2 separate regions of the Homo sapiens genome follow, and region 2 is linked to region 1. The links come from fine-mapping of genetic effects on gene expression. A gene starts in region 1. The other region holds a variant in brackets. All regions are shown on one strand. Distances are between the middles of the regions.

What was found. PIP is the estimated chance that this variant, and not a neighbour inherited with it, causes the effect. A credible set is the group of variants that fine-mapping cannot tell apart.
Region 2: its variant is the best candidate, but not a certain one, in a credible set for the expression of UGT2B4 in lung (TOPMed, PIP 0.86).

The regions. Positions count from the first base shown.
Region 1 is chr4:69,494,203-69,497,132 of GRCh38, reverse strand. It overlaps UGT2B4 (UDP glucuronosyltransferase family 2 member B4), which reads left to right and starts at 1,228. Exons shown (of 6, transcript NM_021139.3): 1 at 1,228-1,992. The coding sequence starts at 1,272.
Region 2 is chr4:69,524,618-69,527,547 of GRCh38, reverse strand. It overlaps a transcript of UGT2B4 not described here. Among named protein-coding and RNA genes, the nearest start is that of UGT2B4, 30 kb to the right of the region's middle. The variant C/T (reference allele first, on the strand shown) is at 1,490.

The DNA of each region.
Region 1 (2,930 bases):
ACATTTCAAAATGTTTAAGTTATTATCTATAGAACAGTTAAGATGAACTTTAATCTTGTAACAATGTCTGCATAATTCTAAGACAATAGCCAAAAAACTATTAGGAAGTGAGTCAGAGAGCAAGCTAATGTAATAATTAATACTGAATGTACTACAGGCTTGGTTTACTTTTTTTTTTTTTTTCCCCTCCCTTTGTCCTTCATTAATTCAACAAAGTCTATAGGAATAGTTTCATCTTGAAACTCTCTAAATCATACATGATGGTTGTAAGAATCAACACGTAAATGCTATATCATAAATGAACCTTTAAAATATTATGCTAAGTAAAATAAGCCAGCCATAAAATATCACATATTGTGTGATTCCATGTATTTAAAAAATGTCCAGAATAGGCAAATCTATAGAGACAGAAATTCAAGTAGCAGTTGCCCAGGATAGGACAAATGCAGAAAGAAGGGGTAGGGAGTAAAAGGCTAAAGCTTATAGGGTTTATTTTTAGGAGATAAGAGTTCTCTAAAATTGACTCTTACGGTAGAAGCACAATTCTGTGAATATACTATGAAACATTAAATTTTACACAATAATTGATAATTTGTATGATATCTGAATTATACGTCAACAAATTTACAAAAGTTTTTGAACCACATTTAGCTATTTTATCTTTAGTTCTGTGTCAAAGAGACTGCAGGAACATGAGCCTCTCACTGCTACTCTTATGCACACTATTCTGAAATATATTACATGAGTCAGGTGATGAGTCCATCCAAGATCATTGATATTAGCTGAATTACAGCACTTAAAAATCTAGGGCTGGGTGCGGTGGCTCACGCCTGTAATCCCAGCACTTTGGGAGGCCAAGGAGGGCAGATCACAAGGTCAGGGGTTCGAGACCATCCTGCCGAATACAGTGAAACCCCATCTCTACTAAAAATACAGAAAAATTAGCTGGGTGCGGTGGCAGGTGCCTGTCTGTAGTCCCAGCTACTCAGGAGGCTGAGGCAGGAGAGTGGTGTGAACCTGGGAGGAGGAGCTTGCAGTGAGCTCTCAAAAAAAAAAAAATCCAAAAAGAACATTAAACGCACTTGTGTAAACAGGTCATCTACCTTTTATTTGTCTCTTTGTCATCCACATGCTCAGACTGTTAATATAATGTATTTACTTTGAAGTGTAAAAGTTACATTTTAACTTCTTGACTGATTTATACTGGATGTCACCATGAGAAATGACAGAAAGGAGCAGCAACTGGAAAACAAGCATTGCATTGCATCAGGATGTCTATGAAATGGACTTCAGCTCTTCTGCTGATACAGCTGAGCTGTTACTTTAGCTCTGGGAGTTGTGGAAAGGTGCTGGTGTGGCCCACAGAATTCAGCCACTGGATGAATATAAAGACAATCCTGGATGAACTTGTCCAGAGAGGTCATGAGGTGACTGTATTGGCATCTTCAGCTTCCATTTCTTTCGATCCCAACAGCCCATCTACTCTTAAATTTGAAGTTTATCCTGTATCTTTAACTAAAACTGAGTTTGAGGATATTATCAAGCAGCTGGTTAAGAGATGGGCAGAACTTCCAAAAGACACATTTTGGTCATATTTTTCACAAGTACAAGAAATCATGTGGACATTTAATGACATACTTAGAAAGTTCTGTAAGGATATAGTTTCAAATAAGAAACTTATGAAGAAACTACAGGAGTCAAGATTTGATGTTGTTCTTGCAGATGCTGTTTTCCCCTTTGGTGAGCTGCTGGCCGAGTTACTTAAAATACCCTTTGTCTACAGCCTCCGCTTCTCTCCTGGCTACGCAATTGAAAAGCATAGTGGAGGACTTCTGTTCCCTCCTTCCTATGTGCCTGTTGTTATGTCAGAACTAAGTGACCAAATGACTTTCATAGAGAGGGTAAAAAATATGATCTATGTGCTTTATTTTGAATTTTGGTTCCAAATATTTGACATGAAGAAGTGGGATCAGTTCTACAGTGAAGTTCTAGGTAAGTAACTTTTTTGATTGGTAACATGAAGATCTAACTTTCTTGTACCTTTGAAGCTGAGTTTGTATAAAGCCATAAAGTCAGGGTAGTGGGGTATTTTTGTAATGAATTTATCAAATGAAATTGTAAGATGATCTACCAAACTCACAAGCACTATAGAAAATGTAAATTATAGGATCAGTTAAAACTCTGTGGCCATCACTCATACAGAAGACTCCAGGAAGTCATAAGCCTGTATATTAGTGCACCTAAGATTTCTTTAAGCAATCACATATCTGTTTTATTATACATTTTTTCATCTTAAAAAAAAGTCAGACTTATTCAGAAACATCTTGCTGAATGCATACTGGTAGATTGAGTAGTTACACATTTTTTAGAACTATCTATATAACATTGCAGAAATTGTTTTTTCTTGTATATTTCAGTCTTATTATTTAGTAATTGCAATATGTACCCATGTTACTAGAACGTTTCCTCCACAGTTGAGAGAAATGATGTCTCCATTTCAGAATCAAAAACCAATGCATGTTATTTGAAGTTTCCAGTGTTTCTATTCCTTCACTAAAGGATTGGAAACCATTTATTTTAAGGCTAATCATCTTGTCAAAGTGTGAACATTAAGTTACAACTGTATAGTTTTTTTTTGAAACTATGTATCTTTCTTTAAAAATATGAGCCAAATTAAGGTTGAATGCAAATTTCTGTTTCAACAAGTTCTCAAAATTTTCTAGCTGTAATTTGCAAACATATTTACCTAAAAACTAATATTATTATGAGGTTAGCATGACTCAAAAGCAGTAGTAGGTACAAGGATTTCAGCCATCATTTCAAAATAATCAACAGTTAACCTGAAGAACCAAAGATAAAAGATTAGATTAATGAATGGGAAATTAGACTATTTGTTAGAAAATTGTTTTTATGGGTATGGTAGAATTAAT
Region 2 (2,930 bases), 30 kb before region 1:
CTTAAGTTTATTTAAGATTTATTAAGATTTATTAAGTTTATTCATTATTTATTGAGGTATGTTCCCTTACCTAAGTTTTACTTCCCTTAAAACTTTCATCACCTTTGCGTTCATTCTTAATTACTGTAAGCCACCACTACTTTGGAATTAGTAATTATATTCTATAGTCTTTGTACATTCATTCACTGGAGAGTCAAATATTGTATTTTGTCTACCTTTCTGTTCTGCAACTTCATGTTTTGCTTTTTATTTATATAATTTTTATTATGTTGTTACTTACATAATACTATATCATACTGTATCATAATCTTAACTTTACCTTAAGGAGTGCATGTATACCTATTGAAAAGATTCTCTGTTTTCCAGAAATATTTTTCTTAGAATTATCCACGTACAATCTCTAATGTGAAGACTTTACTATCCAGGCATTATGTGCCTATCTTAGTCATCAGTATCTCTTTGTCATTGTGCTCAGTTGAGTGTACAATTTTTAGGTCTAGTGTTTTCCTCTTTATGGTCATTTCTCCTGTGTCTTCTAGTAGCTTTCAGGGAAACAGTACATTCTCAAATTTGTTACATACTGGCAACTTACTCCCAAGAAAAATTTTTTAAAAATTATATTCTGCCACCAGATCATATAAGTATCTGCTTGGCCTCTCTGGATAGGGTCAAGTTTCTAGCATAAGCAAAATTCATCTTTATTTGGCATATATATTGCAAATATAATCTTCCCACAGGACATTTGTCTTTTGCTATTATGAATAAACTTTTTAATCCAATTTGTGTGTTTCATAAAAGTGATACAGCCATACAGTAATCCTAGCATGCCTGAGCTTTGTATACAGCTTGAAAATAATATTTCCTTTCAAAGAGTTTTTAATTCAGTTTCTTCTAAGAAATTTCCTTTATTACTATTTTTTTGCATTTTTTTCTTTTCCTCTGGAGTGCCATTCATTGTCTCAATTGCTACAAGAAACTCTATTACAATCTTGCCTATTTATGAAAGAAAAAATTATCCAACTGCTAATTATAAATCTTCCTCTCAAATAGGTTCTGCTAAATAAATTACCCTGAGACTCTGACACATTTGTTGTATCCAACAAAAACAACAACAAAGAAAAAAAAATTACCAGAAACTATAAAATCTCTGATCCTTTCACCCTCTCTCAAAAATTCCATCAATGACTATATCTCCCAATTTGCTTATGGTTCTCTTCTTAGCAAGGAGAAGCTATTAAAGTTGGTTTGGGTTTTAAATAGCATTCCTTTGACTTTCTAAGCACTTAGAGACATGTCACAGCTGAAGCATAGCTTTATCTGAAAGAATTAAATGTGTTTGGCTTTCTGTACTAAATATTCTTTAAACACTCTTCACTATGGACTATCTCTATTGGAGCCTTTTTTTTTTTTTTTTTTTTTTTTTTTTTTTTTTTTTTTTTGAAACGCAGTCTGGCTCTGTGGCTCTGTTGTCCAGGCTGGAGTGCAGTGG[C/T]GCAATCTCAGCTCACTCTAAGCTCCGCCTCCCGGGTTCACGCCATTCTCCTGCCTCAGACTCCGGAGTAGCTGGGACTACAGGCGCCGGCCACCAAGCCTGGCTAATTTTTTGTATTTTTAGTAGAGATGGGGTTTCACCGTGTTAGCCAGGATGGTCTGGATCTCCTGACCTCTTGATCCACCCGCCTTGGCCTCCCAAAGTGCTGGGATTAACGGTGTGAGCCACCTCGCCCAGCCTGGAGCCCTTTCTTTAATATAAACATAAATGTTAGTCAACTTGTTTAAATATAAACATGTGAGCTGCTTGAGCACAGGGACTACATCATAATGTTTTTTGCTCTCTTACATGTCTCATCAACGAATGGATTAGGTAAGTGCTATAAATTGTGCATTGAATGTGTAATGTGAAAAAATGGCAGGTGCATAGATACCTGAGTAGATAATCTATTGTCTAACCCATATCTTGAAACTATATCACGTTGCCCAAAAAATGAGTCTCCAAAAATTTATAATTATTTATATGGAAAATACTTATTAAAAAATTAAGCTCTGAAGGAACACAAATTTCAAATGGTTCATATTTTTTTTCCAAACATGCCATTCATGTTTGGTATCATACTTTACCTAATATCATTATCTGTGTTTTGATCATTCATGTAGAAACCACATCAGTGCCTTTGCTTTTGTGCATTTCTTCTAGTCTCAGATGCAGTCAGTATTCACAAATTTAATCTCTGTTCTTCACATTTACTATTATCAAGACAAGCCCCAGCCCTTATGGTCTCATACTTAGTCTACTAATATACATTTTAATCATTTTTCCTACATGTGAGCTCTTGACTTTACTTGTCAATCTGTGTTTGGCAACAAGAGTTGATTGCTTAAAACAAAACATACAAACAAACAAACACTTGACATTTTGACTGGCTTTCTTAAATACTTGGTTATTTTTCCTGTAAATTAAAATAAAACCCCATATGTACTGTACAAAGCTATGTAAGGTCTCCAATTTCAACCAATTTTTAAAAATAATCTCTGGCACACAATTTAATCTAAAATTCATACTTACTGGAATGCTTTCTAAATACCATGACCTTTTCTCATTCTACTCACTGTGAATTCTTTCCGTTAGCCACACTCTGCCTAGATCCTGCCAAAGCTTTTGTCTTACCCTGTATGTTATCTGTCACACCAGCTTTTTCTGATTGCTCCATAGAGGGATAATTATGTTCTCTGGTTTTCTGATGACCCTGCACCAGAAACATGATGCATTATAATATGCTTCATAGGATAAGCATACCTTATTTTATTGCACTTTGTTTTATCATGCTTTGCAGATATTTGGGTTTTTTTTTCTCATAAGTTGAGGGTTTGTGGCAATCTTATAATCAAACAAATCTATTAACATGATTTTTCCAACAGCAAATCATCAATTTATA